Homo sapiens: one gene and its partners. The protein of the gene in region 7 purifies or fractionates together with the protein of the main gene of each other region. This does not show direct contact. Each region holds a gene or a part of one and is shown on either strand. Other genes may lie near its edges. The genes, in order: GAPVD1, XPOT, GOT1, PARN, URM1, HID1 and TXNL1.

The links.
Region 1: the proteins of TXNL1 (region 7) and GAPVD1 fractionate together in Homo sapiens (co-fractionation; one large-scale study listed by BioGRID). This does not show direct contact.
Region 2: the proteins of TXNL1 (region 7) and XPOT fractionate together in Homo sapiens (co-fractionation; one large-scale study listed by BioGRID). This does not show direct contact.
Region 3: the proteins of TXNL1 (region 7) and GOT1 purify together in Homo sapiens (affinity purification with mass spectrometry; one large-scale study listed by BioGRID and IntAct). This does not show direct contact.
Region 4: the proteins of TXNL1 (region 7) and PARN fractionate together in Homo sapiens (co-fractionation; one large-scale study listed by BioGRID). This does not show direct contact.
Region 5: the proteins of TXNL1 (region 7) and URM1 fractionate together in Homo sapiens (co-fractionation; one large-scale study listed by BioGRID). This does not show direct contact.
Region 6: the proteins of TXNL1 (region 7) and HID1 fractionate together in Homo sapiens (co-fractionation; one large-scale study listed by BioGRID). This does not show direct contact.

What each region holds. Positions count from the first base shown.
Region 1 is NC_000009.12:125,348,561-125,352,457, reverse strand, and holds part of GAPVD1 (GTPase-activating protein and VPS9 domain-containing protein 1), read right to left. Parts: intron 3,069-3,897; coding exon 2,939-3,068; intron 2,164-2,938; coding exon 2,054-2,163; intron 1,746-2,053; coding exon 1,586-1,745; intron 1-1,585. UniProt on the Homo sapiens protein: Acts both as a GTPase-activating protein (GAP) and a guanine nucleotide exchange factor (GEF), and participates in various processes such as endocytosis, insulin receptor internalization or LC2A4/GLUT4 trafficking.
Region 2 is NC_000012.12:64,445,510-64,449,406, reverse strand, and holds part of XPOT (exportin-T), read right to left. Parts: intron 1,303-3,897; coding exon 1,276-1,302; 3' UTR 1-1,275. UniProt on the Homo sapiens protein: Mediates the nuclear export of aminoacylated tRNAs. In the nucleus binds to tRNA and to the GTPase Ran in its active GTP-bound form. Docking of this trimeric complex to the nuclear pore complex (NPC) is mediated through binding to nucleoporins.
Region 3 is NC_000010.11:99,406,590-99,410,486, reverse strand, and holds part of GOT1 (aspartate aminotransferase, cytoplasmic), read left to right. Parts: intron 1-3,637; coding exon 3,638-3,761; intron 3,762-3,897. UniProt on the Homo sapiens protein: Biosynthesis of L-glutamate from L-aspartate or L-cysteine. Important regulator of levels of glutamate, the major excitatory neurotransmitter of the vertebrate central nervous system. Acts as a scavenger of glutamate in brain neuroprotection.
Region 4 is NC_000016.10:14,623,364-14,627,260, reverse strand, and holds part of PARN (poly(A)-specific ribonuclease PARN), read left to right. Parts: intron 1-73; coding exon 74-155; intron 156-3,897. UniProt on the Homo sapiens protein: 3'-exoribonuclease that has a preference for poly(A) tails of mRNAs, thereby efficiently degrading poly(A) tails.
Region 5 is NC_000009.12:128,387,977-128,392,516, forward strand, and holds the end of URM1 (ubiquitin-related modifier 1), read left to right. Parts: exon of another isoform or gene 1-1,284; coding exon 1,285-1,333; coding exon of another isoform or gene 1,334-1,537; exon of another isoform or gene 1,538-1,689; coding exon 1,690-1,758; 3' UTR 1,759-4,040; downstream 4,041-4,540. UniProt on the Homo sapiens protein: Acts as a sulfur carrier required for 2-thiolation of mcm(5)S(2)U at tRNA wobble positions of cytosolic tRNA(Lys), tRNA(Glu) and tRNA(Gln). Serves as sulfur donor in tRNA 2-thiolation reaction by being thiocarboxylated (-COSH) at its C-terminus by MOCS3.
Region 6 is NC_000017.11:74,969,901-74,974,319, reverse strand, and holds the start of HID1 (protein HID1), read left to right. Parts: upstream 1-1,560; 5' UTR 1,561-1,663; coding exon 1,664-1,729; intron 1,730-3,527; exon of another isoform or gene 3,528-3,631; intron 3,632-4,419. UniProt on the Homo sapiens protein: May play an important role in the development of cancers in a broad range of tissues.
Region 7 is NC_000018.10:56,635,769-56,640,140, reverse strand, and holds the start of TXNL1 (thioredoxin-like protein 1), read left to right. Parts: upstream 1-1,548; 5' UTR 1,549-1,700; coding exon 1,701-1,798; intron 1,799-4,372. UniProt on the Homo sapiens protein: Active thioredoxin with a redox potential of about -250 mV.

The DNA of each region.
Region 1 (3,897 bases), on a different chromosome or scaffold from region 7:
TGCAAGCCCCAAGCCTCGGCAGATTCCATGAGGTGTTGAGCCTGTGGGTGCACAGAAGTCAAGAATGGGGTTTGGGAACCTCCACCTAGATTTCAAAAGATGTATAGAAACGCCTGGATGCCCAGGCAGAAGTTTGCCGCAGGGGCAGGGTCCTCATGGGGAACCTCTGCAAGGGCAGTGCGGAAAGGAAATGTGGGATCGGAGCCCCCACAAAGAGTCCCTACTGGGGCACTGCCTAGTAGAGCTGTGAGAAGAGAGCCACTGTCTTCCAGAATTCAGAATGGCAGATCCACTGACAGTTTGCACCGTGCACCTAGAAAAGCCAGCAACTCCACACCAGCCCATGAAAGCAGCCAGAAAAGTGGCTATACCCTGCAAAGCCACAGGAGCGGAGCTGCCTAAGACCATGGGAACCCTGGCTGGGTGTGGTGGCTGACACCTGTAATCCCAGCACTTTGGGAGGCTGAGTTAGGTGGATCACTTGAGGTCAGGAGTTCAAGACCAGCCTGGCTAATATGGTGACATCCCATCTCTACTAAAAAATACAAAATTAGCCAGGCGTGGTGGCGCATGCCTGTAATCCCAGCTACTTGGGAGGCTGAGGCAGGGGAACTGCTTGAACCCAGGAGGCAGAGGTTGCAGTGAGCCAAGATCGCACCATTGCACTCCAGCCTGGGCAACAAGAGCGAAATTCCATCTCGGGGGAAAAAAAAAAAAGAAAGACCATGGGAACCCACCTCTTGCATCAGCGTGACCTGGATGTGAGCCACGGAGTCAAAGGAGTTCATTTTGAAGCTTTAAGATTTGACTGCCCTGCTGGATTTCAGACTTGGATGGGGCCTGTAGCCCCTTTGTTTCTGCCAATTTTTCTCATTTGGAATGGCTGTATTTACCCAATGCCTGCACCTCCATTGTATCTAGGAAGTAACTAACTTGATTTTGATTTTACAGGTTCATAGGCAGAAAGGACTTGCCTTGTCTCAGATGAAATTTTTGACTGTGGACTTTTGAGTTAATGCTAAAATGAGTTAAGACTTTGGGCAACTGTTGGGAAGGCATGATTGGTTTTGAAATGTGAGAACATGAGTTGGGAGAAGCAAGGGGCAGAAAGATATGGTTTGGCTGTGTCCCCACCCGAATCTCATCTTGAATTCCCATGTGTTGTGGGAGGGACCCAGTGGGAGGTAATTGAATCAATGGGGACAGGTCTTTCCTGTGCTGTTCTCGTGATAGTGAATAAGTCTCACAAGATCTGATGGTTTTGAAAAAGGGGGGTTTCCCTGAACAAGTTCTCTTCTCTTGTCTGCTGCCATGTGAGATGTGCCTTTCACCTTCCGCCATGATTGTGAGGCCTCCCAGCCACATGGAACTGTAAGTCCAATAAACCTCTTCTTTGGTAAATTGGCTAGTCTCGGGTATATCTTTATCAGCAGCGTGAGAACAGACTAACACAGAAATCTACATCCAGGAAAATACAGCCAAGCACTTTGTAGGAAGCCTAGATTCATTTCTGAAATAAGGATAAAAAAGAAAACACTTGCAGCTAACAACTAGGTTTAAAAGCTGAACAGGTGGGGTATATTACCTGTAGTCCTCAGCAATCGAAGCCAGCAGTTTCCTACAAGTCCTATTATCAAAACGGCACACACAGCGCATTGTTTCTTGAAGTTGAGCCATTAGATTCTTATCTTGTAAATTAATTGCTTCAGCTATTTGAACTTTTAAGAAGCATACAATTTCATTGTCTAAATAAAAGATACAAGAATTCTGTTATTCTTGAGAATTTCCATGTGCTTAAATAAGCTAATTCAGCATTTGGGACGTCAATTCTGCTTTGTCACGTATCATTAGAACTAAGCTGTATTGCCACTCCCAATTAGAAAATACTTTAATAAATCATCAGTAATCAAAGTGCCCTTAAGTGATACTAATGTAAACATATTAAGTTGAACCATATGGAATTGCTGTACAGCTTCAACAGCTGAATACTGGCAATTTCATATGGTGCAACCCATAAACATAGGAAAAATTAAACGATCCTGCAGCAATTTACCTTCTGGGTCTGTGTGGTCTGGTAAACCATTCCTTGTTGAATGGGTCAGCACTGGGAAGGCAACAGAGTCCGCAGAGCAAAGAGCAAGCCTCAGTTTCTTTTTTGCATCTCTGAAAAATGAGTAGAAAATACATTAATTTCTTTATCCAGATATGGTCACATTTTACAAATATTTACTATATAAATTAATGTTACCTTAGGACTCAAATGTTTCAAACATTTTAAAGAAGATGATTCTTAACTGACACTCCACTTAAAAGAACAGGCTTTCTAATTACCCAAGGAGCCAGGTGTGCTCGGGGCAAGGACCATTCTTTAAAGCACCAGAATCAAACAACAAATCCTTTCTGACCTTTTTTCATACACTGAGTTCCATGACGGGTGCTATAAGAATCGGAAAAGCATATTATGGCAGAGTGGGAGGGACCACGGAAGTCAGAAGCTCCCAACACCCAGATTTGGAATGCCTTCTGGCACATCTCTTTAGAAACGCTGATGACGCCACAAAATAAGCTCACTACCTGACAAGAAACCCTTTCTTCTTTTTTTTTTTTTCCTTTTTCTTTTTTATAGAGATGGGATTTTGCTATGTTGCCCAAGCTGGTCTCCAACTCCTGGGCTCCAGCGATCCACCTGTCTTGGCCTCCTAAAGTGCTGGGATTACAGGCGTGAGCCACCACGCCCAGCGAGTTTTTTAAATCCTTGAATTAACACCTTTGATACATAACATCTACAACTGAAACAAAGTCTTCTTAGTAAACAGCATTTCATTTTTCTCTCCCTGCTTTATACATTTATTGACTCAAAACATCACTTGACTTGACGTGACTGCAATGGTGCTGAAAAGTCCAAACCCTAAAGTCCCAAATCCTATAAAAGAAATACCTGTAAGAGAAAGCTGAATCCTGCGGGTGGGCTGCTTGGCTTGCAGAGTCTGGGAGATCATCAGCCGAGATGTTCTGCAGTGCTTCGTCACGGGGAGAATCATGTGCACTTTCACCATCACCCATAACCTCTAAACAAAACCCACCCCCAAGAAACGGATACCCAGGTTCATTTGGAATATTATGGCACTAGTAGGTATTCAGAGCAACTCAAGAATAAATTACCATTGACTAATAATAAGAGTTCTCTGGAAAAAAAAGAAAGAAAAAACAAACTTCAAATACTTAACTGAATTATCAATAGCAACAATTATGTATCAAGAGACTAGTTGCTGAGAAGAGAGTGGTTTTACTTCTTATCCCAATACTAATGCAAAACAATGAACTAATGCAAAATAATGAAAGTTCACATTAACTTAATAAAGTTAACATCTTAGAATCACTGAACCAGAGAACTAAAAGAGGCTTCAAAAATCATTTTATACCCTCATTTTATAGACATGGACTCCTGCCCAGTCAGAAAATGGCTTGCTCTAAATTTCTTGGTTGGCCAATGGCCAAGGTTGACTATGGGTTAAGGTCTCCTGATTCTCTCTACTGGAGGTCTTCCTGCTACACCCAAGAGTGAGTCAAGGGACCAAATCACACATGCAACAAAGTCAGATCTGTGGTTTCCAAAGTTGGTTTTATGTCTTAATCAAGAATACACGGCTGGGTGCGGTGCCTCACACCTGTAATCCCAGCACTTTGGGAGGCTTTGGTGGGTGGATCACATGAGGTCAGGAGTTCAAGACCAGCCTGAAAAACATGGTGAAACCCTGTCTCTATGAAAAATACAAAAATCAGCCACGTATGGTGGCACACACCTGTGGTCCAGCTACTCGGGAGGTCGAGGCAGGAGAGTTGCTTAAACTCGGGAGGTGGAGGTTGCAGTGAGCCAAGATTGCACCACTGTACTCC
Region 2 (3,897 bases), on a different chromosome or scaffold from region 7:
TGATAACTATTATTTTTTCCTTTTGCTTTCTCAAGTAGCCATGAATAAAAATGGAGGAAGGCAGGGGTAAGTACTTCTAATAATTAAATGTCAGTTACCATTTACAAACATAATAAACACATAGGTATACTATAGGTATACTGTGTTCTAAATACATCCAATAAAAGAGTTAGAAAATAAATTGGGATTTTAAATTCTTTTTTTTTTTTTTTGAGAGAGAGTCTTACTCTCTTGCCCAGGCTGGCGTGCAGTGGCACAATCTCAGCTCACTGCAACCTCTGCCTTCCGGGTTCAAGCGATTCTCCTGCCTCAGCCTCCTGAGTAGCCGGGATTACGAGCGTGCACCATCACACCTGGCTGTTGTATTTTTAGTAGAGATGGGGTTTCACCATGTTGGCCAGGCTAGTCTCGAACTCCTGACCTCAAGTGATCCACCTGCCTTGGCCTCCCAAAGTTCTGGGATTACAGTCGTGAGCCACCACGCCCGGCCTGGAATTTTAAATTCTATCAACAGATTCACATAGGCTTTTTCCAGTACATTAAAGAAAAAGACTCTCATATAACAGAACTAAGTTGCATGTTACCTTTGAGGAGTGAGGTTAAATGAATTAAAGCATCCACACACTCATATTTGTAAACCTTTAAATGGGAAATTATGGAGAGATTAAGATGAGAAAATAAAACTAAAGTATTTATAATAATTCCAGAAAAGACTTGGAAGATTTCACTACGTAAAGTTTATTTTTATATATATATATAAAAAAAAGTATAACACTGGAGCCTAAAACCATTCTCTTTTGTAGAATACATATTGGCGTTGAAACAGTTTAAAGAAATGAAATGGCTATCTACAAAAAGTTAGTTTTGATTGCTGTCTTCCCCCATACTTTGTGTCTTCACACATAAAGAAAATTTTCAAAGATTTTATATTCAGCAATTTTTTAAAAAGTACACTGTTTTCCACTGCTATGGTCTTTATAAAGGACTTGACTTAAAATTTCAAATAAAAAAGAATTAAGGTTCTAGGATAACTCTTGTGTCTTTTAAGAGCATCTTTATACAGAACAATTTGGACCGGCATGCAGGCAACTTCTTTTGTTGTTACATACCTGTATTAGGAAAATTACACCCATTTTACAGAAAAATCCCAAAACATATACTGCAATAAGCTCAAAACAATGTGAAAAAGACCAGTGTGAATGGCACACAAAAATCGCCTCTTTATAAATTAACTGGAATTCATGATCATGAAGTAGGCACAGGGAAATCCAGTCCTCAGGGCTTTGCTCTCTGGAAGAACACCTGTAAATAAAGTATTAATGCAATCAATACTAATGTCAGAAGATATCACTTTCACCTGAAGAATGGCTCCAAGTATCTGAGTGCTAGCAATGTTCTTCTGTAACATTAGAACATTTCGCATGCCTTATATATCCGTATGTAATCCAAGCTAAGAACTTTCTGTTCTGGAGAGTTTGGTAAGTGTAGATATAACTTATGCTGACATCACCCAACTGGGGAAGTAGTGAAAATATGGTGTTATCTCTATGCTATAGAAATCAAGTGGTCAGAAGAAAACAAGCTCTTGACACCTTTTTACTGATTGGTACTATTTCCAAATTAACACTGGTAAATTAAATATTGAGGACGGGCACGGCGCCTGTAATCCCAGCACTTTGGGAGGCCGAGGCCTGAAGCCAGGAGTTTGAGATCAGCCTGACCAACATGGAGAAACCCAGTCTTTACTCAAAATAGAAAAAATTAGCCGGGTGTGGTGGTGCATGCCTGTAATCCCAGCTATTCGGGAGGCTGAGGCAGGAGAATCACTTGAACCTGGGAGGCAGAGGTTGTGGTGAGCCGAGATCGTGCCACTGCACTCCAGCCTGGGCAACAACAGTGAAACTCCGTCTCAAAAAAAAAAAAATTAAATATTGAGGAGGAAACAAGTCAAAGCTAAACATAGCAGTTCTAACTCTGTAAGGAATTTACTATTTATTTGATGATTCAAAAGTACTTCCAAGTCAAAATTTGAGACTACAAAGGAGTTGGCTAGAGGCTGTGCTAGGCATGGCCTAGTACTACATGCTGCCATCCATGGCAGGTCAGGTGAGCACCAGACATAATTCAGTGTTCTCAGTAAGGACAATGATATGGTTTGACCCTGTGTCCCCACGCAGATCTCATCTTGTAGCTCCCATAATTCCTATGTGTTGTGGGAAGGACCGGGTGGGAGATGATTGAATCATGGGGGCAGGTCTTTCCCATGTTGTTTTCCTGATAGTAAATGGGTCTCACAAGATCTGATGGTTTTAAAAATGGGAGTCTCCCTGCACAAGCTCTCTCTTTGCCTGCTGCCATCCACGTAAGATGTGACCTGCTCCTCCTTGCCTTCCGACATGATTGTGAAGCCTCCCCTGCCATGTGGAACTGTAAATCCAATAAAGCTATTTTGTAAATTGCCCAGTCTCGGGTATGTCTTTATCAGCAGCGTGAAAATGGACTAATACAGACAAGAACAGTATTGATAGTGCCCTAGTACCTAGGAGATTCATTTAATAGATAATCTACTATGTGCAGGGGAAAGAATGATCACTATATAGGCAAAAGAAAACCTTACAAGGAGGCTGTGCTTAAGGCAAACCTAGAGAAATGGGTACAGTTCATACAGAAGTTGGGCTGCTAGTAAGGCAGGATTTTTGAAGAACTACAAGAACAGTAAAGACCATTTCTGCAAGAAAAAACAGAAAGGTAGTCTCAGGGCAGAATATGAAAAAAAAAAAAAATTAAGTGCCAAACTGAGAAACATGAATTTGTTCAGGAAGGTTATGAGGAAGGTGAATAAATATCAAAGGACTGCTTGAAGTTTTCAAACACATCAGCCTGGCTAGAACAAGAGAAGAGAGATCAGAGTAAGATAACATCAGCCTACACCAGAGCAGCAGAGACAGAAGAGAGAGAAGATGAGGAAAGAATCTGCAAGATCTGAGGATCAATCAGATGTGAAGGGAGGAGTGAACACGAATGAAATTCATTTTTTCCAACTAGAATAATAATGCTAACACTGAGAATTATGATCACTAAGATAATGTCATCACTGAAGAGAAGTTGGGCCCAGAAGGAAGACTTTTTATAAATGCTATGCAGATAAATAACCACATCTGGAGAACAAGCCTTCTATAGGGTACCTAGATCTACTGTTACAGACACCTCTAACAGATAGTGAGGACTGAGTCCTTAAATTCAGTTTGACTGATCAGTTATTTAACAGGGGTTACTCCTGTAGGCACTTTGCTTTTTTATGGGAGGATGGCGAAGGGGAGGGTTCCCAATGATAAACAAAAACAAGCCCTCAATATTCTTCCACAAAAACTCTGAGATGTTTAAGCTGACAAACTACAACTAAGAAAAAACTGACAAGGGAAGATGTTAGAACCACAGTCAAAGGATGGCACACTTAAATTATTTACTGCGCAAAGCCCTCTGACTTACAAATTCTACTGAATGTCTTTGCTAAAAGAACCAGGTGATACACTAAGTTACCTGCTACTGAATTTAATACAGTGCTTTGTCTTCAAATTATTTGAGTGAAGATAATAAAAAATAATTCACCTTGTCACACTGTAACTTTATTTCTAGATCATGAGCTCCTTATGGGGAGGGAAAATTACTCATAGTTGTATTTGCAGCCATTACTGTAGTACTTGGTACATAAAAAGCAGTCATTATGTATGAAATGAATGACTACCTAGGTAAGACCAAGACAGTTTCATCTCATGAACTCAATTATAACTATGAATACCAAATAAACACGTGACACTTTTTGTTGATTTACAGAGTTAAAAAAAAAAATCAGTAATTTCGTAAATGTAAAAGGAGGCTTGATGGCCCAAATCTGAG
Region 3 (3,897 bases), on a different chromosome or scaffold from region 7:
AAAAATGAATTTGCTTTCTGTAGTGGGAGAGAAAGGGTGGAGTGAAAAGTTGAGAACAGGAAATGAAAAATTATGCCTGGGAATGTTTCCACTGGTATCTATGCATCTATCGTGTTTCCAGAAGTTAAAACCATGTTCAAGGGAGGTCTTGCTCATTTGCTTAGGAAGTATTAGCACTCTAGAGTGGCTTAGGTATCTGCAATGTGAAGTCATGTATGAAACTGACATTCAACTTAGCTGGATGACAAATCCATAAAAAATAAATGCACATTTGTGTTATATCATCTTGGTAGCAATTTGCATAAAGAATTCAGGTAAACCACAATGTGGGGGCAAAACTTTTAAAGTAATAGCAAGGGATGAGTGCTCAGTAAGGATCACTGTAAATAACAGAGTAGTTAGCACACCAAATCTGACACACACTGAGCATTTTCACCCCAGTGCACTGCCTTTGCCCCTCTCTGTAATGTACAGCTATGTTTAGTTCTGCATCCCCTTGAATGTCAACTTTGCTTATGTTTCACATTTCAGATAGTATTCTTTCACAGATGCTCACACCTATAAATACAAACAGAACATTGGTGCATAATAGTGCCGATAATTGGTAACATTACCTTGTTGTTGGCTTAAATGGGATTTCTACTAAACGATTCACTGTTTTTAAGCTGACTTATGGGTTAAATGAATTTTTTTCAGTCATTTTCAGGAAGTATCCACTGTTTCCTGTTTTACTAAGCATTTATCTCAGGAATAGCCAAGCTTTTCTTACCTGTTGTGATGATCATTTGGGTTTTCTCTATCTAGCAGCATGATTGGTTTTATATCTCTTATAATCCATTCATGGGATGACTCTCAATCAAGGGGGTAATTTTAATGTACTGCTGGATTAATATTGTTCATTAATGTTTACTTGGGAAGTTAGTATCAAGGTACGATCTAGGTCTCTCATTCTACTTTTTTCCCTTTTGTTGTCTTTTAGCAGCAATGTTATGTTAGGTTCTTGAAAAGATTTAGGAAGCTTTTCTTCTCTAAGAAGAGTTTTAAAACTTTTTTATTGGCCAGGCGTGGTGGCTCATGCCTGTAATCCCAGTACTTTGGGAAGCCGAGGCAGGCGGATCACGAGGTCAGGAGTTGGAGAGCAGCCTGACCAACATGGTGAAACCCCATCTGTACTAAAAACACAAAAATTAGCTGGGTGTGGTGGTACGTGCCTGTAGTCCCAGCTCCTCAGGAGTCTGAGGCAGGAGAATCACTTGAACCCAGGAGGCGGAGGTTGCAGTAAGCCAAGATCGTGCCACTGCACTCCAGCCTGGGCAACAGAGCGAGACTCTGTCTCAAAAAACAAACAAAAAAAAAACACAAAAAAAACCTTTTTATTATGGAACATTTCAAATCTATATGAAAGTAGAGAAAACAGTATAAAGAATGAATCCCTGTGTATCCATCACCTAGCTTCAACAATTATCTGTATAGGGTCAATCCTGTGTATTTCCATCTACCCACTCCCTGCCTCCCTGCCTCCCTGCCCTCCACGAAAGCTGGATTATTATTTAATAGTAAATCCCAGACATCTAAATAGGTGTTTGAAATTGTAAAATTTTATGACTAATACATGAATACATTCATCTTATTTTTAAAAAAACGACTTATAGATTAGGCCAAAGTCCCTTTCAACCACTATTCCTACATCCTTGGACCCCTCCCCAGAGGTTGCCACTGTTAGAAGATTGGCGTGTGTCCCTCCTTGTATTTACTTATTTATTTATTTGAGACAGAGTCTCACTGTGTTGCCCAGGCTGGAGGGCAGTGGTGCGATCTTGGCTCACTGCAACCTCTGCCTCCCAGGTTCAAATGATTCTCACGTCTCAGCCTCCCGAGTAGCTGAGATTACAGGTGTGTGCCACCATGCCCAGCTAATTTTCTTGTATTTTTAGGAGAGACAGGGTTTCACCATGTTGGCCAGGCTGGTCTCAAACTCCTGGGCTCAAGTGATCCACCCACCTTGGCCTCCCAAAGTGCTGGGATTACAGGCGTGAGCCACTGCGCCCGGCTAGATAGACTTTTTCATGTGATCTTTTTCTTCCTTTCTCTTCAATCCTTTAGACAAATTGGGCAACATGGGGTTTATGACATTTTTCTGCTGAGAGACTTATGCTGAAACCTAATTAGAATTTTGAAGAGGCAAAATCAAAGATCTATAGGCAGAGAACTACATCATTAGAATGTAGTGACTCCATCTAGAATGGAAAACCTGGATTTGTGCTGAGCTGTGCCACTCACAACTGTGTATCCTTTGGGAAAAACATGTCTCTGAATCAGTTCCTCATGTTTCAGGGGATATAGACTTGACTTTAGAGGGCATGTGGGCATTGAGTATACATGAAAGCATTTTGTAAATGATAAAATATAGGAATAGAAAACCAAACACCTCATGTTCTCACTTAAAAGTGGGAGCTGAACAATGAGAACACGTGGACACAGGGAGGGGAACATCACACACGGGGGCCTATCGGTGGGTGGGAGGCAAGGGGAGGGAGAGCATTAGGACAAATACCTAATGCATGCGGGGCTTAAAACCTAGATGACGGGTTGATGGGTGCCACAAACCACCATGGCACATGTATAGCTATGTAACAAACCTGCACATTCTGCACACATATCCCAGAACTTAAAGTAAAATAAATAAATAAATAAATAAATAAAATATGGCTTTTATTATTGCCTATGTTAGGTCACTTTAGGATGAGAGGAAGCCAGCCAGGCGCAGTGGCTCACACCTGTAATCCCAGCAGTTTGAGAGGCCAAGGCAGGCAGATCACAAGGTCAGGAGTTCGAGACCAACCTGGCCAAAATGGTGAAACCCCGTCTCTACTAAATATACAAAAAATTAGCCGGGCATGGTGGCAGGCGCCTGTAGTCCCAGCTACTCGGGAGGCTGAGGCAGGAGAATCACTTGAACCTGGGAGGCGGAAGTTGCAGTTAGCTGAGACCATGCCACTGCACTCCAACCTAGGTGACAGAATGAGACTGTCTCAAAAAGAAAAAAAAAAAAAATGAGAGGAAGCCAAGGAGAAGAAAGTAGTACTCATGCATCACCTCTGTTTTGTTAGAACATACTTCTAAGGATTAATAAGCCTGAATTCTAGAGATGAGGAGTAGCACAGATTGATGTCAATGACAAGTTAGGAACACTGTTTTAGAGGCTTATGCTAGAGGGTAAGTTTGATCTTAGGATGGGTGCTGAAGAGATGGGTTTGCCTTCCAAGGCATGTGCGTGCATGCACACACACACACACACACACACTAATGTGGCCTCGGTGTGTCCTCTACCTCTGTGTTCAGAAGGGAAGCTTCTTCTAGTGTCAGACCTCCTGGGTTGAAGACTGGCACTCCTGCTCAGTAGCTGGTAACTTTGAGCAAGGTTCTTCACCTCTCTCAGCCTCAGTTTCCTCAGTTGTAAACATGGGCAAATCATAGTACCTTTTTCATGTAGTAGTTGTAAGGTTTTGATGAGATAATACAATTAAAAGCCTTAGCACAGAGCAGGCATAGAGTAAGTGCTCATTATTACCTTATTTTTGTAAATATTATCTGACCTCACCATTATCAGCCTGTGACCCTGTTTCTTCTCTTTCAGGTAGGAGGTGTGCAATCTTTGGGGGGAACAGGTGCACTTCGAATTGGAGCTGATTTCTTAGCGCGTTGGTACAATGGAACAAACAACAAGAACACACCTGTCTATGTGTCCTCACCAACCTGGGGTGAGTCTTTCAGCTGAAGTGAGAGGAAAAACAGAAACCAGAGAGAATTATCCTCATGACTCTCCCTGGTTACACAGAAAATGTAATCCAGCCCTAGAACAACTGACTGTTGGGAATGGCTTGAACAGTGGGTTAT
Region 4 (3,897 bases), on a different chromosome or scaffold from region 7:
TGTTAACAAACGTTGGGAATTCCGTTTTTGTGGCACAATGTCACCTCCTAAGTCTCCTTTTATCTTATCCCAGGTATATAACGAAGTCATTTAACTTCTATGTTTTCCCGAAACCCTTCAATAGATCCTCACCAGATGTCAAATTTGTTTGTCAGGTAAGTAGCATAATTGAGATTTTTCTTTTCTGAATTGCTGATGAGGCAGCATGGAAATGTGAAATCAGAATTTGGTTCTCTATTAACTTTGGGCTTTGGGGCAAATCATTTCACCTTTGACCTTCAGTTTTAGGGTAATAAATTCATGACCCTGTTATCTCCTCCTTTGCTGTAGAATGAATTAAGGAGGGCCAGGTACGGCGGCTCATGCCTATAATCCCAGCACTTTGGGAGGCCGGGGAGGGCGGATCATGAGGTCAGGAGATCGAGACCATCCTGGCTAACATGGTGAAACCCTGTCTCTACTAAAAATACAAAAAAAAAAATTTGCCGAGTGTGGTCATGGGTGCCTGTAATCCCAGCTACTTAGGGAGGCTGAGGCAGGAGAATGGCGTGAACCTGGGAGGTGGAGGTTGCAGTGAGCCGAGATCACGCCCCTGCACTCCAGCTTGGGCAACAGAGCGAGACTCTGGCTCAAAAAAAAAAAAAAGAATGAATTAAGGAATAAGATGCAGAGACAGACAGACAGATATGAGAACATGAGGTTTAGTAATTCTAAAGCTGAATTTGAGAACATAGTTTCGTAACTCCATTTGGGATTTTTATTATTTTACCCCCAAGTTGAACCACCTACACATCAAGACTTGCAGGCTTCTTGGCTGGATGTGGTGGTTTACACCTGTAATCCTAGCAGTTTTGGAGGCCAAGACGGGAGAATCACTTGAGCTCAGGAGTCTGAGACCAGCCTGGGCATAAAATAGTGAAACCTCATCTCTATTTTAAAATAAAAATTAAAATAAACAAAAGACTTGGAGGCTTCTCCCTATCCTCACTCATTCTCCTCGCATCCACTCTGAGGGTGTAGACCTTTATTTTCTGGAAAAGCAGAGTATGTGTGTATCCTATGCAAAAAGAGAAAGCGCAGAAGGGGTTCAAGTATTTATGCTGACTTCCTTTTCTCAAGCTCACTAATTAGGAAAGGGGGGTAGAAAAAAAAACTACTGTTTCTCTTGAGGAGAAGAGAGCTTAATTGATGGGTCAATATTAGGGAGGTTCTCCTTCAGGATATTCCCTCTAGAGGTGTTGTAGCTGACCTGGTAGACACTCAGTAAATATCACTGTTTCCTTTCTGCTCTTTTGATTATCTGTTGTAATGGATAAGGAGAATGTGAGTAAGGGGTATGGTTGTGTGGCTATGTGATTAAAGATAAGTCTTAATCTTTTCTCCCTTAAAATCTTGCATCCTATCTTCTCTCCCACTAAAAACATGAATTCATTTGAGTCTTGCCATCTTTCCCTTCTCTTGCAGATTAATGGTAATGCAGTTATGAAAGCCTCGAGGGTAGGCTTCAAGTGATTGAGTTATGTCAAATTCTTTCTCAAAACTGGCAGTATATAAACAAATGAAATCGAGAGTTAATCATATGCTTATGGGCAAAAGAGAAAAGGTGAAGGTTAAATTCTGGTCTTATAGACAGTTTCCTAAATTAGCAAGTAAACCAGTTGACATTTTACCTTTACCCTGCAATCAGTTAATAGCTATTTGTCAATCACCGTGGTATGGGATACTTAAAGAGTATTTATAAATTTTCTTTTCTTTTTTTTCTTGAGATGAAGTTTCGCTCTTCTTGTCCAGGCTAGAGTGTGATGGCATGATCTAGGCTCACTGTAACCTCTGCCTCCTGGGTGGAAGCGATTCTCCTGCCTCAGCCTCCCGAGTAGCTGGGATTACAGGCATGCACCAAGATGCTCAGCTAATTTTGTATTTTTGGTAGAGGTGAGGCTTCTCCATGTTGATCAGGCTGGTCTCGAACTCTCGACCCCAGGTGATCTGCCCGGCTTGGCCTCCCAAAGTGCTGAGCCACCGCACCCGGCCTTACAGTTTTGTTTTGTTTTGTTTTTTTTTTGGTAAATTTTCATTGAGGGAAAAGTAGGCTCAGTTGGGAAATTTGTGTGGATATAGTTTTCTAGCAGTACCAGCAACACAGAATTATTTAAAGTGGGTTCCATGGCTTTGGCCAGGGGTTAATCAAACAAAAGCAGAGGGTGGCAATGAGACACCTTGGGGATGGCACTTTGTTCTTTTTTTTTTGAGATGGAGTTTCGCTCTTGTTGCCCAGGCTAAAGCCCCGGGTTTAAGTGATTCTCCTGCGTCAGCCTCCTGAGTAGCTGTTATTACAGGCATGCACCATCACGCCGGCTTATTTTATATTTTTAGTAGAGATAGGGTTTTTCCATGTTGGTCAGGCTGGTCTTGAAATCCCGACCTCAGGTGATCCTCCCATCTTGGCCTCCCAAAGTGCTGGGATTACAGGCATGCACCACCACACCGGCTAATTTTATATTTTTAGTAGAGATGGGGTTTCTCCATGTCGGTCGGGCTGGTCTCAAACTCCTGACCTCAGGTGATCCTCCCACTTTGGCCTCCCAAAGTGCTAGGGTTACAGGCGTAAGCCACCACATCTGGCCGATGGCACTCTGTTCTAAACAACCAAGACAAAACTGGTTATTTTGAGAAATGTATTGGAAACAGATCAGAGGAACTTCACCCATTGTACAAACCATGATTGTACACCTGGAATACTTAATACAGTTGTAGTTGCCAGCCACTCCTTTAAAAAAAGCTATCATAGACTTGAAGATAGCCCAGAGAGTAATGTCTAAAACAGATGAATAAAAATGCCGGGATTCTCTAGTGTGGAAAAGCAAAGGCAGAGAAAAGGTTTAGACTCTAAATTTGGGAATTGTATGAAAAGGTTAATGTATTTTTGGATTTTCTTTGGTCTCTCATTTAAGGTTTTTGTTTTATTTAAAATTCTATAGTTGTAGCAGAGTTGCATACAAGGGCATTAGTTTCTGGAGTTATTAAGTAGGGTGAAAATTGGGTCAAAATCTCTCTCAGAAAGCTCTTATCACCCTTAAAGCATATAGGATTTGAGGATACAACAATTTAATATGTTCTTTAAAAAATAAGACCCTGTGTGCGCAGTGAGATGCTCCCATATGCTTGTCAAGATGTGGAGGAATGGGCTGACAGAACCACACTCACACCCAGAAGAGTGTGTTTGTAGAATAGTAGGGCAGTCAGCATAGCATGACATTTACATCATTTTTGTCTTCTCCTTTTTCTTTTCTTCCTCTTCCTTTTTCAGGCTGAAGATCTGTAGTTGAATTCATAGAAGGTATTTTATATATATGGTTGTGAAAAATTGAAGCATAACTGCTGTATGTAGAGTAACAGATGTGTTTCTTTTCTTTTTTTTTTTTTTGAGATGGAGCCTTACACTGTCGCCCAGGCTGGAGTGCAGTGGTGTGATTTCGGCTCACTGCAACCTCTGCCTCCTGGGTTCAAGCAATTCTCTTGTCTCAGCCTCCTGAGTATCTGGGACTACAGGCACCTGCCACCACGCCCTGCTAATTTTTGTATTTTTAATGGGGACAGCGTTTCACCATATTGGTCAGGCTGGTCTCAAACTCCTGACCTCAGGTGATCCACCCGCCTTGGCCTTCCAGTGTGCTGGGATTATAGACGTGAGCCATCGCGCCTGGCCAGATGTGTTTCTTTTTTTTTTCTTTTCTTTTTTTTTGTTTTTGAGATGGGGTTTTGCTCTGTTTCCAGGCTGGAGTGCAGTGGTGCGATCTTGGCTCACCACGACCTCCACCTCCTGGGTTCAAGCGATCCTCCTGCCTGAGCCTCTGGAGTGGCTGGGACTACAAACATGTGCTAACACGCCCAGCTAAT
Region 5 (4,540 bases), on a different chromosome or scaffold from region 7:
GGCCTTCTCTGAATCCGGTTCTCCCCTTCCTCCTCCCTAACTCTTCCAGCTCTGAGATCTGTTTTCAGTTTTCTTGTTACTAAACCGAACTCTTGAGGATTTTTTAAATCCCAGATGAAAGGAGCCTGGTGAATTTCTCAGAAAACTTGGATTCTGCCCTCTGGTTGCCACAGACTTGCTGTGGGACCTTAGGCGACTTACTTCGCTTCTCTGGGCCTCAGTTACTCTCTACACAGAAAGTGCTGAGGAAAAAACGTAGCTAGTACAACTGAAGAGCTAAATATTCTGTTTTATTTCATTGTAATTTAAATAGCCACATGCAGCTAGTAGATTACCATACAGTGCAGCACGGGTCTAGAATTCCAAGGAGTCATTGACTCTGTGCGTGCACACACCCATGCACATGCACACACACTCACTGGGGACACCCCATAGAAGCCCAGTGCAGTCTCCTTGGAAAGGACCAGGTTCCAGTTGCCACGAAGTTACTTCTAAAACAAGGCCAGTCCCCCACGTGAAAGGTGGCCGGTGCAGTTGTGAGGCTCGCTTATTTGCCTCGAAGCATAGGTCACTGTCAGGTCCTAAGGGATCAGGCCTAGGGGATCAGCCCTCCTTCAGGTCATGGTCCAGTGGTCCTGGAGGCCACCTCTAAGGCCAGCAGTGCTCCTTGGGCCATTACCAGTGGGAGCCAGGCTAAGCTGCCTGACCAAATGTTGACCTACCCTGCCTTATGCCAGGCAGGACTGCACGTGAGCATTGCCATGTGGCATGGCAACTGATTCGGAAGAGGCAAAACAGCCTTCTCTCCAGGATGGGCATGCAGAGGCCTAAAAAAAAGCCGAAGTTCTTTTCCAGGGCTAACGAGAATAAGATTAGACCCCTGGAAAAGTCCTACTAATGGTTACCATGACAGTGTGGCAAGCACTCCACACATATCAGCTCATTTCGTTTTCGTATAGGCCTTGTGGGTTAGACAGTATCACTTATCCCATTTTCAGATGAGGAACCTGATACTCAGAAACAAAATGACCTGCCCATGGTCTGGGTGGTGGTGCTGGCTGGCATTTGCACCCATTTTCCATCTGGCTACAAAGACCATGCATGACTGACCTGGTTTCCTTCACACTCAGACCAGCCTCCCCTTCCTGGGATATCTTTAGCCAGACCCCAGGAGGAAGGCTCCTCAGCACACTCTCCTGCAGCCCAAAGCTCTCAGCCTCTCTTCCTCTGTGCTACTGCCTCCTGCCTCTCACTCCTTGCTACTCACCACCATCTTTCCCACAGGCGGCCAGGAATTCTGGTGCTGATTAACGATGCCGACTGGGAGCTACTGGTCAGTACCTTGGGGGACATCCCTCCCCCAGCCCCTGCCCTTGCTGCTTCAGTGGGAAAGCGTTGGGCCTCTCCTCAGGCACATATAGAGTGGCTGGGTAATCCTCCGCCCCACTCCAGCCCCACACTGAGGCTGCTGGAGTCTCCCACTCCAGGTGAGGAAGGGATGGGTAGCTGGGGACATGGGAGTACTCCTCCATCCTGAAGATTTGCAGGTTGAGGTATAGGATACCCATTTTTCTGGTAGAGTCTGTCTCTTCCAGAGCAGCCAGTCCTCAGCCCCTGTTCTCCCAACTCCTGGGGTGGACCTGGGAAGGTGGCCCTGAGGGTCTCCCGCTCCCCTCTCTCCCGCACCAGGGTGAGCTGGACTACCAGCTTCAGGACCAGGACAGCGTCCTCTTCATCTCCACTCTGCACGGCGGCTGAGGGCCCTTCTCTGGGCCTGGGCACCCTTAGAGGGGAGAACGAAGCAATCAGACATCCCCTTGGGCCCTGCTTCCAGGTCTCCCTGTCCCCCTTGCCTGCCTTCTTCCCTGCTCTGTCCCCTAAGCTCCCTCCAGGCAGGGAAAAGAGGCCAGGTGCTAAAAATGAGCCTTTCTCAAGCACGTGAGCAGCGGAAGGCAGACAGGCGCCAGAGCCCAGCACTCCCTTTTCCAGCAGCTGTGGTGGGGGAGGGTTCCCCTCCAGTTTGTCAAGAGTTGAAGGAGGCTCTGTGGCCAGGTGACCTGGCTGCCTTCCACTCCTTGTACCTCAGTCTAAACATGGAGTGGCCGCTGACAAGGCGCTCCAGCCCCAGAGCCAGCGTCTTCATGGGGAAGATGAATGGACCTGAGTAGCTGAAGGAAGGCCCCTCCCTACCCAAAGACTGGAGGCTTCTCAGCCTCAATTTCCCTGTCTGTACAGCTGAGGGCTCTGCCTGTCCCCCACTGCTATCAGTATGGAACCCCAGCTGGGGTCCCCTATTGAGTGCCGACTCCCCCCACCGCCAGCAGCTGCTCCTCCAGCCACACCCCTCCTGCTCCCCCCACCCCTAGCCCTTGACCCTGGCTGGCCTGCCCCGCTCCACAGGCCACCAGATGGGCTCCTGAGACCCTCCCCAGGCTGCTTACAGCTCATTCTGCTGGGGGTAGAGATGAGGGGAGGGAGTAAGTTAAACCTTGGACTAGCAAGTAGAAGCCTGGGGGGATGCGTGTGCCTCAGTTTCCTCCTCCACAACTGAATATAGTGGCTGAAAACTGGGGAGATACTTGATGGCGCGAATGTCCGTTTTCTCTCCCTTCCCACCTCCTGCAGGAAGCAGGACGGGGCAGGCAGCACCTGGTAGGCACAGTGCTTTGCCCCTCCTCCCCTTCCCTTCTGGAAGTCTTGGGGCCTCAGTGCTTGCAACAGCCGGCCTTGGGCAAATAAAAGACTAGGTTGTTTACTAGCCTTGCTTGGAGCTTCATCCTTGGAAACGGGTGGCACCTCATATCCCCCCAGCCGTGGTCTGTGATACAACCTCTCCATCCTCAGCCTAGGGCCTCAGAGCTACCCTTCACCCAAAAGAGGGGTGGGGGTGAACACTCAGACAATCTGAGAGGGGGTAGTCTAATAGAGCCATCTGGAGAAGGGAGTGGCAGAGCCAGTCTGTGCTGACCAGTCTGTGTCCCGGGACGCATCCCCACCCGTCTGTCCAAGGCTTTGTCCCACCAGCTGCAGCCAGCAGCCTCAGAACCCAAAATGAGGGTAGCATAGATAAGACTGCTGAGCCCCCTTTCTGTGGTCTTTCCTTTCCATGACCTAGAGAAAAGAGCTTTGCTGGAGGGAGACCCCCAAAAAGAATTAGGGTGCTAACATCCCACCAAAAGCATCATCCCACCCAAAATGTTGCTTTTCATTCTATGTCAATAATTTAAGGTGGAATTTCTCTCACCCTGTGGAGATGAAAGTGGCAAAAGGTTGTCCCAGCAGTGTTGGGGGATGGGGTGTGCACATCATTCTTTTGGGGGTAGATGACCTGCTGGCTGGTGGGCTTTTCTCCAGGACTACTGCAGGTAGAGACCCTCTGGGCTTGTGTGGAGTGGGAGCAGCCGTGTTGGGACTATGGGGAGGAGCTGGTCTGGGTGCAAATTAAGGCCAGTGTTGGGGTCTGAGTGCTGTCCAGAAAGGCTGTGTGACCAACCCTCACTAGTTCCTGAGGTCAGGGTCTCCATGTTAGGGAACAGAGCAAGAGACTTGGAACAGCTCCCTACAGCTGCACTTCTAGAAGGTCAGCCTGTCCGATTCTTGTAACCTGGAGGTCCCTCCCCATCTGCAGCCCCCTGAGCTGCAGGAGCGGCCCCATCAGTGCACCTGATTGGAACACACTAGATTTCAGGTCCTGGAAACTGGGCGCTAGGATCCGTTTCCCTGGCTGCAGAGAGTGGGAGGTGTGATGTGGAATATCCCTTCTCCCAGCACACCCCAATTAATACTGAAGAGTAGGGCAGGAGGAGGTGCTGGGAAAACCGGGTTTCTTGGCACATGGGGGTGCAAGCACTGTGGTTGAAATTGGCCATGTCCAAGGCACACCAGACGATTTCAGGTCATTTTTAGCCCTAGACTGGAAAGGGGTCAGGGGACAGGTGACCTGGGCTCAGCCCCCAGCAGCTCCCAACTGCCCCTCTCCCAAGCAACTCCTGATCCCTGCTTTTGAGGAAATAAACAAATAAAACCCCGCTATCTCCGAAGATTTTTCTTTAATGAAAAGGATTCGTTTTTCCAAATTCTATTTCCAAAGCCGAGGAGATTGCCGGGCTGGAGCGCATCGTTGGTGACGCTTGCCCGTCGGACCCTGGCAGCGGCTGGAGGAGGCTCAGCCCATCGGTCCGTCCGGAGGGGCTTGCGGGAGGGGTTGGTTTGTTTGGGATTTAGGGGTTGGTTGAGGATTTGTTTTGTTTAGGTAGGGAGTATTGGGGTGATAAGTTAGAACAACTGCGAAACGAGTTAGCGGGCGCATTCGGCCGGCCTCTTCTTTCACCCCCGACTTCATGCGGCTTGGGCTGAGGGCGGACCACATTCGGCCCCGCCGCTGCGTGCCGGCTTCGTTCCGGCCGAAATTTGAAAGGAGGAAAAACGACGCGATCGACTGAAGGACCCTGCCGGCCGGGACTGGTCACCCGCAGAGAAGGAAGAAGGACGAGGATGCGGATGGCGGCGCTGGTGGCAGGGACCGGCGTCTCTGTGCGCG
Region 6 (4,419 bases), on a different chromosome or scaffold from region 7:
ACCTGTAATCCCAGCACTTTGGGAGGCTGAGGCAGGCGGATCATTTGAGGTCAGGAGTTCAAGACCAGCCTGGACAACATGGTGAAACTCTATCTCTACTAAAAACAAAAAAAAATTAGCTGGGGGTGGTGGCGGGCCCCTGTAGACCCAGCTACTCGGGCGGCTGAGGCAAGAGAATTGCTTGAACCCAGGAGGTGGAGTTTGCAGTGAGCTGAGATTGTGCCACTGCACTCCAGCCTGGGTGGGCGACAGAGCGAAACTCCATCTCAAAAAATAAAAAATAAAAAAGCATCCAAGATTTCCAGAAGCTTCCAGACATAGCTTGCAAAATGATGTTGTGGAAAAAGCGCAGCCTCATTTGGATGAGCTCCTTACTACCTGTGTGGCTTTGGGCAAGTAATTGCTTTAAGCCTCATTTTCCCCAAGTGTAAAATGGGGATAAAATAATACCTCAGAGGTAGCTATTAGAGATATCGTCATTGTCGTCTTGTTTTGATTCCCCCCCCCCCCCCGAGATGGAGTCTTGCTCTGTCGCCCAGGCTGGAGTGCAGTGGCGTGATCTCGGCTCACTGCAACCTTTGCCTCCCAGGTTTAAGCAATTCTGCTACTTCAGCCTCCAGAGTAGCTGGGATTACAGGCGTGCGCCACTAAGCCCAGCTAATTTTTGTATTTTTAGTAGAGACGGGGTTTCACCATGTTGGCCAGGCTGGTCTCGAACTCCTGACCTCGTGATCCGCCTGCCTCGGCCTCCCAAAGTGTTGGGATTACAGGCGTTAGCCACCGCACCCGGCCTTGTTTTGATGATTAATCTGCCTCTATTACAGGCTTATTTGGCTGTACCCTGGCCGCTTCTTTCCTTATCCCTCTCCCTAGCTGCTCGCCATAAAGAGCAGGCTGTACTACTTATGTCCGCTGTGTCCGTCCATGACACAGAGTTGGCAAATACCAGACCCTCAGCACATTTGTTGAAATGGATGAATCTCAAAGGATTCTCTGGGAATCTGGTGGCTAGAGAGGGGTCGGGACCGCGAGGGACTCTCGCGCTCAGCAAGGCGAGGAGCTGCTTTCCTGGAGTATGGAAACTGAGTCAGCGCCTCCCTCCCTCATAACCAAGGGCCTGCGGGACTGTCTGAACACGTGGGTTTGACAGGTCAGAAAAAGGGAGAACCAAGAGAGTGGATGCTCAGAAAACATGAATGGGAAAGACAGACTGAGAAGGAGGAAAGTGGGATGGAGAGGGCCAGCTGAGACGTGGGCCAGGAGCCGGAGCGGAGATGAAGGGTGAGGACCGGGGCGGGGGACGAGCTGCGAGGAGGGTTTTGGGCCCTGGGGACTGCGTGGTAGCAGCGGAGGCGGGTACAATGCTCCGACGCAGAAGGAAGAGCGTCGAGGCTCCGGGTGGGACCTGAGAAGGCACCCGGCGTGCGGCGGCGCTGGGTTGGAACCGCCGACTCCGCGGGTCTTCGGCGGCGGGCGCTGCAGGTGCAGGAGGCGGAGCCACGCGGGGGCGGGGCCTGTCGGGGCGGGGCCGACGAGGGCCGGGGGCGGGGCGCGCCGCTTGTCTCCTGCGAGAGCCGCGGGGGCCGCGGAGCTGGAGCCGGAGCTGAAGCCGGAGCCGGGTTGGAGTCTGGGCGGGGGCCGGGCCGGAGCGGGCTCCAGAGACATGGGGTCGACCGACTCCAAGCTGAACTTCCGGAAGGCGGTGATCCAGCTCACCACCAAGACGCAGGTGCGCCACGGGGGCCCCGGCGTCCCCATCCACCTGCCGGGCTGGGGGCTGGGCAGGGCCGGGGGTACGCGAACTTGGCTCGTCGGGAGATGGGGGGACGGGCGGGCCCCGAGCGTAACGCCAAGGCCAGCGCCGGAACGGGACCCCGCGGCCTGTACCTGGAAGCTCCATCCCCTGGCCCTAGTCCCCCACCCTCAGCCTCCTCTCCTGGGAACACCCCTCTCCCCGAAGCCGCTGCTGCCACCTTAGGCTGACGTGTGCCTACTCCCCGAGCCGGCGACACAGCTGTCCGCCCCCTGTCCCGCCCCGCGGCGTCCCCAGCTTCGCATCTCCAGCCTCCCGCCGCCCCCACCCACCCATCCACCGTCCGCTCCCCTCCCTGCCCCTCATTGCCCGCGGGTCCCGGACGCACAGTCCCTGTTGACTCAATGCAAACAAAGCCTGGCTGGCGTCCGCCCGGGTCGGAGAAACAGCTGGTGTGCGCGGCAGCGGCCTCGCTGGGCCCTGGTCGATGCCCGTGGGCAGGGAAGGCCCAGGTCTTCCTGGGAACACGCAAAGAGTGGCGGGCAGCGAGGCAGCCTGGTGGGGGGCCCTGTCCCCAGGCCTACTGAGCACAGCCTCCCAGCTGGGGACCTCTCCAGGGGCCTTCCCCGAGGCCCTGCAAGGGAAAGGCTGTTAGCCTGTGTGCTCTGTTCTCTGGCTCAGGGATGGGGACCCGCAGGATGGCCCTCAGTCAGCTGGTGAGGGGCCTAAGGACCCTCCAGCCTAGTCCATGCTCATAACTCTCCTGTGAGTCCACAAGTGGCCCAATAGCCACCTCCTTATACCACCTGGCCCCAGCAAGACTGCTTCTCTGCCCACCCCTTCTCTCCTGGCTTTTTGAATCAGGCCACCGTGGCCACAGAGATGCTCGGCCCTGACTCCCCATGTCCCCCATTTTCAGGGGACACAGGACCTGCTGCCATCTGGGATCTTCCTCTTTCCTGGCCCCCCCACCTCCTGCTCTCCAGGGCTCTCTCTTGCTGCTGGAGGTTAGAGTGGGATGGAGGAAGCCAGCTCCCACAGCCAGCTGGTCACAGCTCCAGGGGCCAGACCTTGCTCCCTCACCCCTTTCCCCACCCTGGAAGGGTCAAATGTGCAGCAAATGCCCAGGGCCTCTGGAGAGTCCAACCCCGGCTGAAAGGCTCTTGATAGAAACCAGACCGCACTTCTCTCCATTCCCTACGGCTCCTGGGTCGTTCTGGAGCTTGGCTTTTTTAGGATGGGGTTTTCGTTCTGTGGGTGGCAGGGAAGGTGGCAAGTGGGCTAGCCCCTCAGTGTAGGGCTGCAGGGAGAGGAGTGGGGAGGCAGGGAGGAAGGGAGGCTCCCATGTTTACCTGCCTGGGGAAGAAACTCCTTGTTGGAGGATTGCACTGTGGGCTCGGCAGCTGGGGTCCTTTGCCAGGCCAGTGGGGCCAGCTCAGCAGAGTACCAAAGGCTCTGGAGTGGCCTAGATTCCTACCTGCTCAGGCCTTTTCCCCAAAATACTGTGTCCCTCTGTCTTTCCCTGGCTACAGCCCTATGATGGGCCACTTGAGATGGTGCTGTTCTGTTTCCCAGCTGAGTAGGCTTGGAATAGAACCTGGATAGGCTGGAGATCAGACCAGCCTTCTGGAGAGCACTGGGTCCTGTAGGCGGACGGGGGCCTGGGCTGCCCGGGGGGAGAGGCCTTCAGAGGCTGAAGCCTTGGACTCTGTGTAAGTGACCTGACTTGGGTAGCTTGGGTGTGAGGATCAGAACCCAGATGATCATCACTGACCTTACCACTTGGAGTCCCCAAGGAGATTCAGGCCAGTTGTCCATAGGATGATATGTGGTTCCAGGCTCTTACAGGGTGTGGCTTGGGCAGTAGACAGGCAGAACTAGCCCCTTTTCCTGTGGCCTGGGCCTGTATCCCTGCTGCTCCACCTTCCTCGCCTTCCTGCCCTGCATCCTGTTTTCTTCCTGCCCCATGGTCCAGTCCTGGGTCAGGCCTGACCCTGGTCCTAAGAGCCAGCCGCTTTGGCTGTGTTTCCTGGTGCTTCCTCATAGTAGGTGGGGCTCTGGAGGGAGACAGTCCCAGACCTGGAACCCTCTCCCAGATCCTGCCTGTTTGGAATTCTCTGCTGCAGGCCAGATGAACCTGGCGGGTGCATATTTACATGTGTATACATGTATGTGCATGGGAATGCATGGTGACACAGTCCTCTAGAGCAGGCTTAGCAGGCTTGAGGACTAGGGGACCTTCCCCCTGCACACCCTGAGAGTCAAAAGATACAACTGCTCCCCCAGGTCTGAGTGGGGGTCTAGTCCGAGCAGGGGCCTGGAAAAGCTGGGTTAAGAATATCTGATTTTGGGCCGGGTGTGGTGGCTCATGCCTGTAATCCCAGCACTTTGGGAGGCTGAGGTGGGAGGATCACCTGAGGTCAGGAGTTCGAGACCAGCCTGAGCGACATGGAGAAACCTCGTCTCTACTAAAAATACAAAAATTAGCCAGGCGTGGTGGAACATGCCTGTATTCCCAGCTACTCGGGAGGCTGAGGCAGTAGAATCGCTTGACCCCAGGATGCAGAGGTTGCGGTGAGCTGAGATCATGCTTCTAGCTTGGGCAACAAGAGCGAAACTCTGCCTCAAAAAAAAAAAAAAAAAAGAAAAAAGAAAAATCTGATTTT
Region 7 (4,372 bases):
TTTTAACTCATTTTTAAAAAGCTACACGATTGAAATGTTTTGAGTTATTTTAAATTCCTCTGTCATCTCACTAAATTGGACCAATAATTGTTTCTCAAACATGTTCTTTCCTCTTCATTTCCACTGCAGATGCTTTCCTAATTTAGTTCCTGGATCACCACAGTATCCTCCTAAATGGATCTCACTGCCTTCCATCCTCCTTGATGCTACCTGAGGGCTTTTCTGAAGACACTTTTTCTTTTTCCTTTTTTTTTTTTTTTTGAGACAGGGTCTGGCTCTGTTGCCCAGGCTGGAGTGCAGTGGCGCAATCATGGCTCCCTGCAGCCTTGACCTCCCCAGCTCAAGGAATCCTCCCACCTCGGCCTCCCGAGTAGCTGGGACCACATGTGCGCGCCATGACGCCCGGCTACTTTTTTGTATTTTTGGTAGAGACGGGAGTTTCACCACACTTGTAATTGCAAAATTGCCCTGAAATGATTTTTCCATTCTCTTCCCGACAAAATCCAAATTCCTTAGCTAGTCATTATCTGACCTTGGCCTTCCCTCCAATTTCATCTCCCCAGCTAAATCCAAAGACAGATAATTTGCCACCTAGCCTAATATTTAAAAGAGTACACTGGCGTTAGCCTGCCTTGACTTGAAATCACAGAACCTACTTCACAGGGATTAAATGAACTAGTACACATATAAAGAACTTATGTCTTGCCTGGTACATCATGTGGTAAATATTAGCTATTCTTCTTATCCACCCTCTCAACTCATGCATTTGCACCTGGTGGTCCCCTTGCCTGGAATATTACCTCTCACCATCCATCTAACCCCTGCTTCTCTTTAAAGATTCAATCCAGGAGTCAGATTCCTAGCAAGTTTACCCTGCCCCACCCTTCCATCTCGTTAGTCTCCACCGCTTCCTATTCAAATTATTGTTTGCGTCGGTCACTAGACCGTGAACTTCCTAAAGGAGGGATAGTGTCTTCATCTTTTTGGTCAAAACCTAAAGACAGGTGCACGATACTTTCTGAATGACTGCACAGAAAGCGCCCCATATGTAATTAAGTCTGTTAATAAATATTCCTAAACGTTATTTTGTCTTGTATGTAGACCTGCCCCGAATACAGTACAGGAGCATCTTCAAAGTACTTCCAGTGGGTGCCCTGGACAGCAGCTAAGAACCCCGGGGTAAAACGAGTTTCCTCTCTACTGTTACAAATCAGAAACCTCCTCCGTAAAAGCCTCAGATCTGGGAAACGCGGATGCATATGCCAACTTTTGAGTCTCAGTCTGCGCCTGCGCACGTGACCTCTACACGTCTCCTCTGCGCCTGCGCCGCTCAAGTTAGCGCGAGGCTACTCAGTCGAGGGTGGGACTACGCTTCGCGTTTTGGGATTGGGCGCTGAAGGCCAAACCGGACGACGCGGAAATGACGTCACGCCGGGGGCCCTGCCGCGCGGTGGCTGCTGGGTGCCGCACGCCTTCCCATCCTCCTCCTCTCCCCTCCCCCATCCCTCCCCGCCCCCTCGGCCGCTCCGCTCCCTGGCGTGACTCGGCACTGAGAGTCCCGGGAGAAGACTCGGCGGTCGCCACCTCTTCTGTCCAGGCCTCGGCCTTCCTGAGCATCTCTCCTTCCTCTCCCAGATCGTCTTCTCCTTCAGTTTCAAAGCCAGTGGCGTCGCGGCCACCCTGCCGGGCTCTCTGTGAGGATGGTGGGGGTGAAGCCCGTCGGGAGCGACCCGGATTTCCAGCCAGAGCTGAGCGGCGCGGGCTCCAGACTCGCCGTGGTCAAGTTCACCATGAGAGGGTGAGGCCAGGCTCGAGCTCTGTGGGTCCCCGTCTGTCCTTCCTTGCTTTCCTTTCACTCTTTGTTGGCCCTGGTTTCCTAGCCGTCTGCTGCCCCGGAGTGTCCGGCAGTCGCCGCAGCCCCAGGAGCTGCCGGAATTAGGCCTCGTTTCTCGGGTGTGAACCCCCATTTATGCACAGGGGTTCCTAGACGGGCTCGGGGGCCTGGCTGGCCGGCTTCTCCAGCTCAGGAGATTTCTCACCTGCTCCTTTTCAATTCTTTGACAAACTGGTTTTGGGGGTGGCCCGCCCCTATTCCTTCCAGCCTGTGGGAGTCTCCGCAGCCACCCTTGCCTGAGCCTGACCCCTTCTTTCTGCAGAGCCAGCTGTCATTTGCATCTCCAGAGCTCCAAAAGCTTAATTTACCGAACACTTTGTTTCTCTTCACCACCTACATCTCTCTAAAGCCTTTGAAGATTCAGATGGGGCGATCTAACTAATATGCGTAGCTCTGAGTCCTGAATTTCTGCTAATGCATTTCGAACTAAGTTAACGTTGGGTTAGGGTGCTTTTTAAATTATTTGAACTTTTTTCTTCCTCGTTCGGCCACTAACTTGTAGCTTAGGCTCCCCTATGTATGCGATTGCAACTGGTCACACACGACAGTACATATATAATATATTTCAGGTGGACAGTTGGCCGGATGTCTTAGTTTGACCCGGCTCTGTTTTTTCACTTAAGAGGACAGGGATCTTGAAAAATGTTAACTGTCTTTGGTAAATATCAACAAAATTATAGGTCGTAGAAAAGGTGGACCTTTTATAGTGGATGTGTAGTAAAGTTCCTTTGTAAGAATGACATGTTGGAACTCGGCGTTGAGAACCAAGATTTCAGCGTGTGTGTGTGTTTCACAGATCTCTCCTTGTGTATGTCGATAGTATTTAGTTAGAAGTATGAGAGGTTTCCGCTTTATTTTCCTTGACCCCTTGGCGTTATTTATACATCTAACTTGGAGCAGTCTACTGCTGGTATCACTGTTTATGTAACACACTTTCTTGTCCAAATAACTGTATAAACACAAAATTCCATTTTGAATTTCAGAGCAAAAAACAAAGTTTCTACTAGATGGTTCACTAAATGTTGAGTATATAAATGGTGGCATTAGGATTATATCGTTTTAGGGAATGGATGCAGATAGATATGAAAACAAGTTAAGACTTATTTTTGGACCAGTCTCTCTTACACTGAATTGAAAAAGGATAGTACCTTGCATTTCATATGGTGGGCTAGAGTACCCATATGATATACGGAATTTTGCATTTACTAAATTTAAAAGGATAAGTGATGTCATATATATAAAACACCTAAAAGGAATGTTAGAATTCTATAAATGTGTCTTCTCATTTTTAGCAATTTTGTGATGTCTGTATTCTTAATAATAGGGGAATACCTGTAGTACATTAAGTATCTAGGCCACAGTAGAAAAGGGAAGATAGGATTTCAATAAGGAACCTCACCTCACTTTTAGTTCACTTATTCTAATTCTGGCCCGTCGAAGCTTTTATATTTTTGTCCCTCAATGATATATTGTTTTTCTCCCTTACCATAGCAGTGGGAGAGATAATAAAATAATAAATAAATATTGATTGAAGTGAGAAAACTGGGGAAACATTGCTGCGAAGGAAGGTTTTTTCTATCAGTGTGGTGTCACTTAAGCATAAGCATAACTGCAGACATTGATTGGTAAGGAACTGTTACATTTAAAAAGGTATTTTAGTGGAATTAAAATTTTTTTTCTTTGTAAAAACCGAGGGAAAATTAATGTTTGGATTTAGAGTAAGTTCAAAAGCATATTTATATTACGTTTACAAATCTGGTAAGATTATTGTATTTACCTTTAATATTCCTCGAACTTATTGGCCATTAATACATCCTGTCTAAACTCATTGTCAATAGAACCCCAGAATTATGTATATGACGGGTCAGTATTAGACTCAGAAACAACTGTATTCAGTAAAATCTTGTAAGAATCCTCTTAGATCAAAGTTAATGCTGTCCCAGTTTAGACTGAGGGCATAGTTTCTCCAGCACCTATTTCATTTCCTTTCCAACCCTATTTTAAACCTTTTTTCTTTTTTTTTAACCTCTATGCTTTATGCACTCTCAGTCTAAATTTTACTAAAATGATACATAGATTGTTCTCCTGTGTAAGAATCTTTAGTGGCTTATGATAAAATATATATAACATAAAATTGACCATTTAGCCATTTGTAAGAGTATAATTCATTGGCATTAAGGACAGTCAGCCCTCTGTATCCATGGATTGAACCAAATGTGGATAGAAAATATTTGGAGAAAAAAAATTGCATTTGTGCTGATCATGTACACACTTTTTTCTTGTCATTATTTTCTAAACAATACAGTATAACAACTATTTACATAGCATTTACCTTAGGCATTATAAGTAATCTAGAGATGATTTAAAGTATATGGGAGAATGGTCGTAGGTTATGTGCAGATACCATGTCATTTTCTATTAGGCCCTTGAGCATCTGTGATTTAGTGTCTTGCTGGAGGTCCTGAAACTAATCCCCCA